2 separate regions of the Homo sapiens genome follow, and region 2 is linked to region 1. Evidence: fine-mapped expression QTL. Tissue or cell type: atrial appendage. Region 1 holds a variant in brackets; the other region holds the start of a gene. All regions are shown on one strand. Distances are between the middles of the regions.

Region 1 (2,686 bases):
CACATCTACAACCATCTGATCTTTGAGAAACCTGACAAAAACAAGAAATGGGGAAAGGATTCCCTATTTAATAAATGGTGCTGGGAAAACTGGCTAGCCACATGTAGAAAGCTGAAACTGCATCCCTTCCTTACACCTTAAACAAAAATTAATTCAAGATGGATTAAAGACTTAAATGTTAGACCTAAAACCATAAAAACTCTAGAAGAAAACCTAGGCAATACCATTCAGGACATAGGCATGGGCAAAGACTTCATGACTAAAACACCAAAAGCAATGGCAACAAAAGCCAAAAGTGACAAATGCGATCTAATTAAACTAAAGAGCTTCTGCACAGCAAAAGAAACTCCATCAGTGAACATGCAACCTACAGAATGAGAGAAAATTTTTGCAATCTACCCATCTGACAAAGGGCTAATATCCAGAATCTACAAAGAACTTAAACAAATTTACAAGAAAAAATCAAACAACCCAATCAAAAAGTGGCCAAAGGATATGAACAGATACTTCTCAAAAGAAGACATCTATGCAGCCAACAGACACGTGAAAAAATGCTCATCATCACTGGCCATCAGAGAAATGCAAATCAAAACTACAATGAGATACCATCTCACACCAGTTAGAATGGCGATCATTAAAAAGTCAGGAAACAACAGGTGCTGGAGAGGATGTGGAGAAATAGGTACACTTTTACACCATTGGTGGGAGTGTAAACTAGTTCAACCATTGTGGAAGACAGTGTGGCAATTCCTCAAGGATCTAGAAGTAGAAATACCATTTGACCCAGCCATCCCATTACTGGGTCAAAACCCAAAGGATTATAATTCATGCTGCTATAAAGACACACGCACACGTATGTTTACTGTGGCACTATTCACAATAGCAAAGACTTGGAACCAACCCAAATGTCCGTCAATGATAGACTGGATTAAGAAAATGTGGCACATATACACCATGGAATACTATGCACCATAAAAAAGAATGAGTTCATGTCCTCTGTAGGGACATGGATGAAGCTGGAAACCATCATTCTGAGCAAACTATC[G/A]CAAGGACAGAAAACCAAACACTGCATGTTCTCACTCATAGGTGAGAAGTGACCGATAAGAACACTTGGACACAGGATGGGGAACAGCACACACCGGGGCCTGTCATGGGGTGGGGGGAGGGGGGACGGACAGCATTAGGAGATATACCTAATGTAAATGACGAGTTAATGGGTGCAGCACACCAACATGACACATGTATACATATGTAACAAACCTGCATGTTGTGCACATGTACCCTAGAACTTAAAGTATAATAAAAAATAAATAAATAAATAAATAAATGAAGTATCAAGAGGCCAGGGATGGTGAATCATGCCTGTAATCCTAGCACTTTGGGAGGCTGAGGCAGGAGGATCACTTGAGCCCAGCAGTTTGAGACCAGCCTGGGCAACATAGGCTGACCCCATCTCTATAGAAAATTTTTAAAAATTAGCCAGGTAAAGTGGCGAATGTCTCAGCTACTCAGGAGGCTGAGGCAGGCAGATCGCTTGGCCCTGGGAGGTCAAGGCTGCAGTGAGCCCTGACAGTGCCACTGCACTCCAGCCTGGGCAACAGAATGAGACTCTGTCTCAAAAAAAAAAAAAAAAAGAAAAAATTAAGTATCAAGGGGTGCTATAGGACCAGAAATAAGAATACTTAAAGTTTTAAAAGGAACTGAGTGACAACTAGCATTCCCTAACTACATTGGGAGGAAGAAGGGAAGGCAAATAGAGGTATGAACATTAAATTCTTGTCCACCACAGCAAGAAAATACTATCTAACATTATTACCCAACATTGACAAATCAAGATACGGATAGTGTCTGAACAGGGCCACATCAATTCCTTCCCTCCCTGTATGTGCAAAATGTTCCTCGTATCAAGAGGTGGTCTTATTTCCTACCTCTTAAATCTGAACTGCCCTTAGCAACTCACTTGATAAATAGAATATACTGGAATTACCTATGTAGTAAGTCTTCTGAAGCCAGGTCCTAAGAAGTCTTGCGGCTTCCTCCTGGGTCTCTTGGAACAATTACTCTTGAAATGTTGTTCAGAACACAATTATGAGGCTGTGAGAAGCCCAAGCTACACGGAAGGACCACATATAGATACTCTCCCACTGAACTCCTACCAATGAGCCTTTAGATAATTCCAGCCTCAACTGCCATTTAACAGCACCCACATGAGACGTCAAGCAAGACTGCCCAACTGGCTTGCTTTCTCCTTTCATTTTTTAAAAATATAATTAAGAACTTACGAGTCAATGGATTTCAATCAACCATAGTCATTATTCTAATTGATGATCAAAATGTCACATTTTAAGCCAACAGAAGAGCCTTCATATTGGATCTTGTGTCCTTCTGACACAGTCCCATTAGTCTTTGATAGGTTCCTTGCTTTCTGACCCAAGATTGCCAGAACCACTTCAATATGTAAAATGAAAATTTAAATTTTAGTTTTGATCACATTTTTGTAATATACATATTATATATTTATATGAGAAATGCTGTTTTTGACATATGCATAAACCCGTATGTATATAGGAAAAAAGTACATTCCTAAATGTAAATGTTAAGTAAGTAAATAATATAATTATATAGGTTGTGAGATTGGGGCATCATTTTTTCTTTTTGCTTGTCAATGTTTCCTAATCCTCAAATA
Region 2 (2,686 bases), 41 kb after region 1:
TTATTACCTTAATCGGCTACACAAAGATGAAGCTACATTTCAATCGACACCATGCGCTGGCACGGGAGTAACTCACTTAAAACACCACAATCCAAGGTCAATTTTTCTCAACTCCATTTATGACTGCGTAAAGATTTTATTAAATCTTTTTTCCTATTTCACACATCAATTCCTAGGGTCCACACAAACTCTTCCATCTTCTCCAAACTGGTATTTGGATTAAACATTATCCAAGATCAGTCTTTAAAGTAAATTTCATAATTTCATATAAAAGTGTGCACCACATTAACACTCAAATGTGTGTACAATTAAAAATATACAGACCAGCAACAGCGACTCTTAAATGAATTTAGACTCAAAGTGTTTTCACAGAGGTTTTTCTGCCGTCTTGGAGGGGTAGGAAACTGCTGGCATTACGAATCCCATTTCATGGCTGGGTAAACCGAGGCACTTAGGGGTTACAGAGGTAAAGATGGAAATAGAAACCAATTTCTCCCTCCGACTCTACGCCTGGTCCCTTCCCACTAGACTTTTCAGCACTCAGTGGCTAAAAATGGGACCCACTTGAGAACTGCAAGGGTAAATAAGAGCTACTTGTTTCAGAAGGTGGCGGCGGGGGAGGGGGACTTACCCACTTGATGCGCCCGATTGTGTGTGGGCTCTAACAAGAAAGCTCTCCCTGGATGCCCAAAGGTTTGCACCCACCCGCTTTAAGCTCAGACCCGAGAGGCACCGCCAGGCAGACAGGGCAGCCGGAATCGTGCAGCCCGAGAAACGCGAGAGGAATGCGGGGCGCCCGGGCGGCGCGGGGGCCGCGGGCCCCGGGACACCATTTGCTCCCGGAGCGACGCCGTGGCCCGCCGGGCGGGGACGATGCTGAGCCTTCCGCACACACCTGCCGGAGCCCGCCCGGGAGCCCCGGGCCGCCTCCCGCGCGCCGGACGCCCACCCAGCCTCCAGGCGCAGGAGCTCTCGGCCGCGCTAGGCCAGGGGCGGGAAGCCGCGGCACCCCTCTCCGCGGGCTGCGCTTGGCGGCTGGCGCGGGGGAGCCGCGGGGCGAGGCAAGCCCGCCTTCCTCCCCAACCCCCCCTCCAAACGGCGTCACCTGTGCCGGGTCCCGGGGCGAGTCGCGCGCGGGCGGCGGCTGCGCCGAGCCGGGAGAGGGCGGCGGGTGTCTACAGGAGTCTGCTCATCCGGGCCGGCCCGAGGGCTGGCGCTGGCCAGTGCCGCCCGGTGAGATGCTCACGGGAGCCAGGGAAGCCGCGGGTTCCGGGCCGCTTGGAGGTGCAGTCGCGGAGGCTCCAGCTACCGCGGCGGCCGTCGCGCCCGCCCGGACTGCGGGCTCGGGTTACCGCAGAGCTGCTCCTTAAAGGGGCCGCGGCCGCTCGGGCTCCGGCTCCCGCTCCGGGCGGCTCCGACCCTGGCCAAAGTGGGCGGGGCCCCGAGGCGGGCCGCCGAGCAGACCTTCTTGCCCTGGAACTTGGGTCCCGGAAAGAGCCCAAAAACCCTAACACCCGAAGTCGCAGCGGAGAGATCCTGGAAGCTCACACCTTGCCAAGGGCAGAGGGTGCAATTCCCGGGTTTTCCAAAGCAAGTCACAAAACTTGCCAGCGGGGGAACTGTGTGAGCCCGCCCCCGCAGCGGTCAGTACCTGGGCTAGCCACGTAACAAAAAATCTTCTTAAATTATGAATTTACATTCTGCCTTAAATGCTCAAATACTGGGGACTTCATGGTTAGATCATCAGAAAAGAGATGAAAAGGCAACTGCTGGTTTTTCTTGCCACGTCTGACACGGCCACACTCGAGTCCCGCCAGTTCTTCTTTGGGGCTGCAGGTGCATACCAAACTGGTAGGGGGCGCGTGTAGAAGAAGCGTGTTCTCTCCAGCACCACCTCCAGAATTCCTGAAAAACACCCTCATGGGTGCACCAGCACTACACCTACACCCGGAACCCCTCTGTTGTCGGGGTGTGGAAGTTGGATTTGAATATTTGGTGCTGGCTGAGAATTCCAAGTTGCCTAGTAGATAAAGTTTGACATTAAATAGATGTTCTGACCTGTTATATACAGCCCCAAAAGCCTCCAAGTGATCTGCATCAACCAGAGATAATTGTCTGAAACAAAACAAAATAACAAAGAGGTATACTCATGCATTATAATTCGCAGAGAGCAATCACAAGGCCTTTTCTTGAAAAGAGGTAAGTTCTAAATAAATAATTTGTAAACACTATCATTGATAACAGGATATTTATTTCTAAGAAATGTCAATAGAGCTAACATATTTGATCTACTATATACATGCGCAGAAAGACACACATATCTGCCGCAGATTTAGACCAGAAAATATATACACAAAAGCTCATATAAGCTGTCCATGTTTATTTTCAAGAGAGGGCAATAGAATTTAAATCAGAACCTGGAATTCTGTCAGTTTATTAGAGTTGTGTGCCTTTAGCTAACTGAACCTCACTGAGGCTCAATTTCTTCATCTTTAAAATGGTAATAATAATTCATAGTGACTCTGAAGACCTGGACTGATGTGGAAAAGACAAAATCTATACCACAGAACAGGGAGGGACAGAAACCTGCCCTGCAGTCAAGCAGAGAGAAAGATCTTTCAGGCCCCCAAATGCGTGTTCCCCTTTTTCTCCCCAAGACTCTCAGGATGTACCAGGGCTCCAGTGC

Direction of the effects. Alleles are on the strand shown, and positions count from the first base shown. SD is a standard deviation of normalised expression in the study named.
As copies of G replace A in region 1, the expression in atrial appendage of the gene that starts at base 1,368 in region 2 goes down (small effect, 0.28 SD a copy in GTEx).

What was found. PIP is the estimated chance that this variant, and not a neighbour inherited with it, causes the effect.
Region 2: TLCD4 starts here. The variant in region 1 is fine-mapped to the expression of TLCD4 in atrial appendage (GTEx, PIP above 0.99).

The regions. Positions count from the first base shown.
Region 1 is chr1:95,157,137-95,159,822 of GRCh38, reverse strand. The region is part of intron 5 of TLCD4 (TLC domain containing 4); the gene reads right to left. The region is part of intron 5 of TLCD4-RWDD3 (TLCD4-RWDD3 readthrough); the gene reads right to left. Among named protein-coding and RNA genes, the nearest start is that of TLCD4-RWDD3, 41 kb to the right of the region's middle. The variant G/A (reference allele first, on the strand shown) is at 1,046.
Region 2 is chr1:95,116,037-95,118,722 of GRCh38, reverse strand. TLCD4 (TLC domain containing 4) reads right to left here and starts at 1,368. Exons shown (of 7, transcript NM_152487.3): 1 at 1,106-1,368. TLCD4-RWDD3 (TLCD4-RWDD3 readthrough) reads right to left here and starts at 800. Exons shown (of 8, transcript NM_001199691.1): 1 at 632-800. RefSeq lists silencers at 878-927, 1,008-1,287, 1,215-1,361 and a cis regulatory region at 2,616-2,686.